Homo sapiens: one gene and its partner. The protein of the gene in region 1 interacts with the protein of each later gene in a pairwise test. Each region holds a gene or a part of one and is shown on either strand. Other genes may lie near its edges.

Evidence for each region.
Region 2: the proteins of PPP1R3F (region 1) and HTR2B interact in a two-hybrid assay, tested with the Homo sapiens proteins (one large-scale study listed by BioGRID and IntAct).

The regions. Positions count from the first base shown.
Region 1 is NC_000023.11:49,282,973-49,286,792, reverse strand, and holds part of PPP1R3F (protein phosphatase 1 regulatory subunit 3F), read right to left. Parts: intron 960-3,820; coding exon 1-959.
Region 2 is NC_000002.12:231,122,108-231,126,711, forward strand, and holds the start of HTR2B (5-hydroxytryptamine receptor 2B), read right to left. Parts: upstream 2,936-4,604; 5' UTR 2,895-2,935; coding exon of another isoform or gene 2,865-2,894; exon of another isoform or gene 2,024-2,864; 5' UTR 1,658-2,023; coding exon 1,306-1,657; intron 1-1,305. UniProt on the Homo sapiens protein: G-protein coupled receptor for 5-hydroxytryptamine (serotonin). Also functions as a receptor for various ergot alkaloid derivatives and psychoactive substances.

The DNA of each region.
Region 1 (3,820 bases):
CCCTGCAGAAGGACGGGAGAGGCTGGCTCCTTGCCAGATATGGGATCCAAGCTGCCTGCCCACTCACTGGTGACCTCTATCTGGGCTTCTGTCCCGGCCTCCCCCAGGGACTCAGTCACCCCAGCTATCACCCTATTCATGTGCAAAGAGCTGGTGTCCTTGCCCATCCCTTTCTCAGGATCCCCAATGAACTGACCCTCTGTACCCAGAACCACAGGGCCGTCACATCCTGAGCCCTCTGCCCATGGGAGCCACACATCTCCCATCGTGGCTACCACAGAACGGGCCCCGGAGAGGATTTCTGGAGGCGATTCCTTGGGGCTGTCCCCTTCTGGGCTGGAGGGTGTGACAGAGAGCCCCTCTTCACCCTCCCCTTCATCATCAGGGTCTTCGGTGTCCTTGATGAGCTCCACGCCACGCCCCAGCCGGGCATAGTGCAGCGTGATCTCCTCAGCCAGGGCGCTGTTCAGGGCCCGCTCAGGGCCAGGCCACTTCAAGATCAGGTCGCGGTCCGTCAGTATGCCCAGGGGATGGCTGGGGGACATCCCTCCATCTGTGGAGCCCTCCCCACCACCCCCTGCCCCACCCGCAGCCACAGCAGCCCGTAGGCGGCTCAGGTGAGACAGGTAGAGCTGCTCCAGCTCCTGGTCGATGGTGTCCTCACCGAGCAGCTCCTCTGACCCACTCACAGCCTCCAGCCCCCCTCCATTCTCACTCGATACTCCCCATGTGGCCTCTGCCTGCTGCTGACTGGGCTCCAGGAAAGGCCCGGTGGCCCCCTCGCTCGCATCGGGCCCTGAGGCCTGGTCTCTGGGGGAGCCACCCAGGCCACAGAGAGGGGAGGAGGGGGGAATCCTGATGGCCGGTGCCTGGAGGACCTCTGTAAAAGCCACAGGTGGACTGCTTCTGGGGACATCACCTTCTTCTGCGGGGTTGCCAGTCATCGGAACGTCAGAAACCTGGAGCCATGGCCGGGGCAAGGGGGCAGAGAAAAAGCAAGGGAATGAAGCAGAGGAGGGGATGGAACAAGCAGAGACAGTAAGAAGTGTGACAGCCCACAGCCAGCCCCACAGGGGTTTCTATATAAAAATGCCTTAAAGCGCCCTCTGTCACTGTCTAGACTCCAAAGACTGTCATCTATGGTAAAATAACACAATTGGATGCAGTAAAACAGGGCTTCTTGCAGATTATAAAGCTGAGGAATTCGGTGGGTGTGAATATTTGGTGAATGATCATCACTAAATACTGCTGGCTTACCTTCAAAACAGAGCCAGTTAAAATAACTAAAAGTGTAAGTAGCCAGGCACAGTGGCTCTCACCTGTAATCCAAGCACTTTAGGAAGCCAAGGCGGGCGGATCACATGAAACTAGGAGTTCGAGACCAGCCTGGCCAACATGGTGAAACCCCGTCTCTACCAAAAATACAAAAATTAGCTGGGCGTGGTGTTGTGCGCCTGTAATCTCAAGAGGCTGAGGCAGGAGAATCACTTGAACCCAGAGGGCAGAGATTGCAGTGAGCCGAGACTGTGCCACTGCACTGCAGCCTGGGCGACAGAGACTTTGTCTCAAAAAAAAAAAAATAAAGAGTGTAAGTGGATTGTTTGTAACACACAGGATAAATGCTTGAGGAGATGCATACCTCATTCTCCATGATGTGATTATTACACAATGCATGCCTATATCAAAACATCTCCATAAATATATACACTTACTATGTCCCCTCAAAAATTAAAAATTAAAAAAATTTTAAAAAAAATAAAATGCAAAAAAATCCCAAAACATAGCCAGGATGTCCATATGAACCCATGATGTATCATCTTCTCTTTAAAAAACAATTATTTCCTAGCTCCATCTTTTGAAAGGGCCTAGAAACAATGACCAATCTAGTAGCAGCAAGCATGCCGAGCCCCCAAATCTTGGCCTTTGAATGCCACTCTCCACTGAAAGGAATCAGTGCTCCTTAAAGAAATAGCTGTTTCTGGCCAGGCTCAGTGGCTCACGCCTGTAATCCCAGCACTTTGGGAGGCCAAGGCAGGTGGATCACCAGGCAGGTCAGGAGTTCAAGACCAGCCTGGCCAACATGGTGAAACCCCATCTCTGCAAAAATACAAAAATCAGCCGGGTGTGGTGGCATGTGCCTGTAATCCCAGCTACTCAAGAGGCTGAGACAGGAGAATTGCTTGAACCCAGAAGGCAGAGGTTGCAGTGAACCGAGATTGTGCCACTGCACTCCAGCCTGGGCGACAGAGAAAGACTCTGACTCAAAAAAAAAAAAAAAAAAAAGAAAGAAAAAGAAAAAAGAAAGAAAGAGAGAGAGAGAGGAAAGAAAGGAAAGAAAAATAAAGTAAAAGAAAAGAAAGAAAGAGAGAGACAAAGGAAAGGAAAGAAAGAAAGGAAAGGTAAGGAAAGAAAGGAAAGGAAAGAAAAGAAAGAAAAAGAAAAAGAAAATAAAGAAAAGAAAAGCAAGAAAGAAATGGCTGTTTCCAGGCTTGGGGCAGGGAGAGTACAGGATGAACCTAGCACATATTGTCATGGAAGATGTGAGAAAGGCTCACAGAATGATGAGGGCGTGTCAAAAGGACAGAGTAGCCCATCTCAATAAGCTCCTACTAGCCAGGGATAGTTCAATTTAAGCATCAAAAAAAGCAAACAAATAAGTGCAATGGATTGAAACTCATTCAAATATGTTTAGAATTCATGAGTTCATAATGACACAAAACCAAAAATCCTTTTATTGGTCACCTTTGTAGTAGTACTTCTCTGAAAACTGGTAAATAAAATGGAAAAAATTAAATATTTACACTGCTTTTTCTGCACAAACTATATCTCAAAGTAGCCAAATAGCTGGTGTGGGACAGTTTTTCTTTAGAGAAGAATTCTAGCTAATAAAGGAAGTGGGAATAATAGAATTAAATAGAGTTAATTCTAGTTAATTTAATAATAAAAGATTAAATACATTCGTTTAATACAATTTGATAAATTAAATAAATTTAATAAGATTACATTAATTAATATAATTAATAAATTAATAAAAATGGAGTAAGAAATGTATTTCCACCTGGATGTAATCAGCCAGACCCAGACTGGAAAATTCTACAGGACAAGCAAAGTTTCTTCAACCAACAAATTGCAAAGAAACAAAGTGGGGGAGATTTTAAAAATCTAAAGAGACACATCAATCAAATGCAACATGTCAACTTTGTTTGGATCCTAAACACTTATGAGAGAAGAAAACTTGAACACTGACCAAATACTTGATGATACTGAGGAATTACCGTTTATTTTCTAAGGTGTGATGATAGTATTGTGGGGTTAAGAATTCTTAATTTTCTGGCCAGACGTGATGGCTCACACCTGTAATCCCAGCACTTTGGGAGGCCAAGGCAACGGATCCCGTCTCTACTAAAAATACAAAAATTAGCTGGATGTACTTGCTTGAACCCAGGAGGCAGAGGTTGCAGTAAGCTGAGATCACACCACTGCACTCCAGCCTAGGTGACAGAGTGAGACTCTGTCTCAAAAAAAAAAACAAAAAAGAGTTCTTAATTTTCTGAGATACAAACAGAAGTATTTATGGATGGGATGATGTCTGGATGTCTTCCAAAATAATTCCAGAGGGAATGGGAGGGAGGAGACGGGGTACAGATAAAATAAGAATGAGCACGTGTTGATATTTACTGAAGCTGGGGGATGGTGTACGTAGGTTCATTATACTATTTTACTTTTGTATGTTTGAAACTTTTTGTAATTAAAAAGTTCACACACACACACACACACACACACACACCCTCCAAAATGTCTCTACCTCCCCTACCTACCA
Region 2 (4,604 bases), on another chromosome or scaffold:
AAAGATTACAAATTTATAAAACAGGGAGATAGAAAGACTGTTAATTATTAGAAAGTCTAATTAAAGCAGTAGAACTTTACTCATTACTGCTTGTCCTGCCACATAATTTTCTTGATTTATTTTAAAGCCCAGGTAAATGTTGATTTAAAATGGAAGGTGTAAACCTGTTACTATCTGATAATAGTTTTAGATATCTTTCTGTTATTACTTATAAAATTGTAATGTGTAAAACCTGGGTATAATAGTTGGAATAGCAGGGGTTTTTTACCTTCTAATATGGATTCTAGTTTAATAAATTTTACTTCTGTAACTTAAAATATTTTTATCTTCATATAAGTAAATATAATTCTAAGAAACTATATCTGCCACAAGTAATCATTTTGCTTAGGCAGTTTATGAATGGAATATCAGTTTATACCAAGCATTGAATAAGTTAAATATCCTTTTAATGCTGATTCCAAGGGTCTAGGAGCCCTCATAATTCATCAGCAGAATTATTTGTGTTTATCCAAATTTTATAACTAGAGATGATATGCAGAAATCTGGAACTACTTATATCTTTTTTTTATTATAGCAAACTAAGATTTCAGTGTCAAACTATACCTTTTATTATCGCAATAACTAGGTTTTAATCCACTTACCAACTTAGAGGCCTATCAGGAACACAGATGCCCATATATCATAAAAAAATTGAATCGATAGATCATCTCTTTGGACACTCTGAGCCAAACCATTTCCTTCAGCAACTAAACATAATTTTTCTTAACATGACACATATGTAGGAATTGTGTTCAAGTTTATAATATACAAACTATTAAGAGCTATAATAAGAATTTTTGGACAGTTCCAATTTTAAACTGGGGTTTAGTGATTTAAATTGGGATTTAGTAATTCAAAGACCTTATCGTTAACCCAGCGCATATCTGTCCCGGAAGTGTCCTAGTTATTGCTTTGAGGAAAAAAAGTATCAGTGTAGAAAAGTTAAAGTATAGGCCTATTTACTATAATTTATAGATAATATATTCAGAATCTATAAATATCACTAACTTGAATGACTTTTTAAATGATTTTATTAGATAGCTTAGGAGGGAGAAAAATAGTTTACAAAAAATATTTTTTGCTCTTTAAAACTGCTGATCAACCATAGAGAATGATATAAAACAAGGGACTGTTTACTTGCCGTATCTTTAAATAGTCCAAGTTCATCTTTTATTTCAAGAAAAGTAAAGATTAAATGAGTGTCCATTCTCTAATAGTATATCATAGTTCTGTGGTTTGATGGCACAAACAAAGTGAAATACTTACCAAACATTATTGTCAAGAGGGCAATTGGCATCACAAACAATCCAACCAGCAAATCAGCCACCGCCAAGGACATTAGAAAGTAATTAGTAGCATACTGCAGCTTCTTCTCCAGTGAAACAGCCAGAATAACAAGGGTATTTCCACCAATTGTGGGTATTATCACCATGAGTATCAGAAGAGCTGCCCAGTGCAGTTTATTTCCCTGTTCCTCAACAATCTGTTTCATTTCCTCTGGTATTGATTCTGTCTGTAATCCAGACCAGTTAGAAGAGATAACGTGAACAAAGGTGCTCTGCAAAATGTGCTCAGGAATTGTGCTTTGAAGTTCAGACACTCTGTAAGAGAGAGCCATTTGCTGTTTTTCTGTGATTCAATCCCGTTCCGAACAGTGGTCAGCATGGTTAGTAGCTAAGCTGCTCATCTGTTTTTTTAAGGCATTGTAACCATGCCAAACACTCAAAAGCCAAAGTTGACACCTTCCTTTAAAAAAAAAAATTCAAGTTCTCTAAAATGAGCGCATACACACATCTGTCCATGTTTGTAGGTAAGATATCCAAGTATTTATTATTTTCTAGAGGCTTAAATTTAGGAAAGCTCAGTGAAAGAAACTGATAGCTGTGAAAAAAATAGGATATATATATATTTTTAGTTTCTCTCTCTCTCTTTTTCTGCCGTAGTTGTAGAGTCGTGTTTGAACTTGCATGCCAGAGAGTTCCCCCTAGATACAAAATACATAGACTGCATTATTTTATTCATTTCTGAAAGTGGTAAAAACACTTGAACTTCATAGCCCTTCCCTTCTTAGTAAGTCTGTTGTGCATTTGTGACAATGCAGCCAATTCTCCAAATATACTGTATTTCTGATGTTGCTCAGTTAATGAAACAGAAGACACATTAATTTTTTCAATGGTTATAATAAAAAGTTAGGTGTTTCCTGACCCTTGAATGTCTTTTTACCTTTACTTACAGAAGAATAGAAAAGTCGAAACACAATAGTTCAGAATAGAACTTTTAGTATGCGCTGGCCACCCACCTAGAAACACTCAAAGCCCAACAAGGGTCTAAATAAATGTTTTACCAGCTAGGGATCCTTATATGTAATTAGCTTTGTCTTATCAGGTTTGTGAGTACTGATATAAATGTCATTTTAGATTTCCTTTAGTTTGAGAGAAGGAAAAAAAAAGGTATTACTAGGATCCAAATAATTGTGTTTAGTAATTTCATCTCTCATGGTATGTCTTTGCAACAATTGTGTTCTAAATTTAATCACTAAATTTGCCAAATTCAAACCAGTTCTTTTTTTGTTTTAAGTAGTGTTTATTTTTTTAACCTTCCCAGTTGCCTTGAGAAGAAAGGGAAACCAAAAGGAAGATTAGACCATTTATTTGTTCATCAAATGTACAAATCACGTTTTTAAAAACTCTCCTTTAGCATTAGTAAATTTTTCATTTTGATTTTTAAACCGCTGAATAGAAATGAAAGATTATGATAGCAGAATTCTTGAAGATTAAAAAAAAAAACCTTTAGATTAATTCCATATGTGTTTATTAAATGCTTACCTCTGGTTTCGTTGTTATTTTGCTGAGCATGTCATCTTATCTGTTCACTAGACTTGCTTGCTGCTGTGACTGAAATCCTCCTCCCATTGACTTATTCTGAGCCTCCAGCACAGGCGGTTGAAAGCAGTGAAACAAATACGTTGTATAGCTGCAAGCATGCCAAGGAGGTTATTTCCTCTTTGATACATTCATTTTTAGAGAGTAGCAGCATTCATTGTAATTCATAAAACCACTGTTAAGCATGTTGAACCAGTTCATGGCCCTTATTCAAGTTATATTTTTAAGAGCTCTCTTTAATATTTGGGGGGACTGTAATAAACTTGATCATTTTAGCTTCAGATAGTTTTGTTTGGGGTTAAGCCTGAGCTGTTTTTCACATTTGAGAAAAAATAAGATATAATCTAGCTATTTTAGAGGTTTCATTCTTTGAAGATTCTGCCGTTTTAAAAGCCTATAGTGATTTCTACAGTTCTGATTTCTAGCAGTGAAACAAGATTCTTATCTAGCTTTTGTGCCTTTGCTGTGGAACACCATTAATTTGCTCTGGTTGCAACCTTATATAGAAGAGCACAGAAAGGCCTGAATTCTACATGTATACATAGGTTTTAGCAGAAACTTTTTTACTGCTTATTTTTAAACAGATGATCTCTGGGTTTAGGAGTGGTTCACAGCTTTTTTTCCCCATAGACTTTACGTTGGAGAAAATACAAGTAATGAAAATACGTTTTTGCCTTATTTCAGAAAATTGGTGTTTAAATCTTAATAGTTATGCTATTTAAGTTTTCTGTAACCATAAGACTAGCTTAGTATTAGAACCTCAGCATTCTCAAGGTTTCCTTTTAAAAGATCATTATAGATGCATATTTTAAAATTAATTACTTATAAATCAGTGATGACATTTGTGCCCTTTTCTTGTTTCAAATTTGTATTCCTTTGCTCATGTTGAATGTTATTGGAAAATACTTAGTTCATTTTAGCTCTGCTGAGCACTTCAGATTTTATTCAGTATTTGCTGCTTTTTTAAAAACTCAAAATTTACTATATTAGAAAAAATACTTGTGAAGAATTCTAGATGAAATAATATTCAAGAGAAATCAGATGTTTTTTAATGTACCAGAATTTCTATTCAGGAATATGAAAATATTTTAAGGCAAGGTGCGGTGGCTCATTCCTGTAATTCCAGCACTTTGGTAGACCAAGACAGGTGGATTGCTTGAGTCTAGAAGAGACCAGCTTGGGCAACATGGCAAAACCCCATCTCTACAAAAAAAACCACATAAATTAGCCAAGGGTGGTGGTTCACACCCGTAGTCCCAGCTACTGGGCGGCGGCGGAGGGGTTGAGGGTTAGGGGTCAGGGGAGACCTGAGGCAGGAGGATTGCATGAACCTGGGGGAGGTCGAGGCTGCAGTGAGCTGAGATCACACCACTGCGCTCCAGCTTGGGGTGACAGAATGAGATCTTGTCTCCAAGATTAAAAAAAAAAGAGGAAAAGAAATTATTTTTAAATACTGCTTAGTTGTGAGTTACACTTTGACATCTGTGCTTATGAAGGCAGGTAGGGATCTGCAAAACAAGTAATGTCAGATTGAAAATAGCAGCACCATTTTATATCCAGTGAAAAGACTTGTATGAAATAAGCCTTTATTGATTTGTTTATAGATAAAATTTTTTAAATATTAAGTATATTATAAAAATGCAGTCATTGTTGTATTTTGCCTGTATTAATCCTTTCACTCAC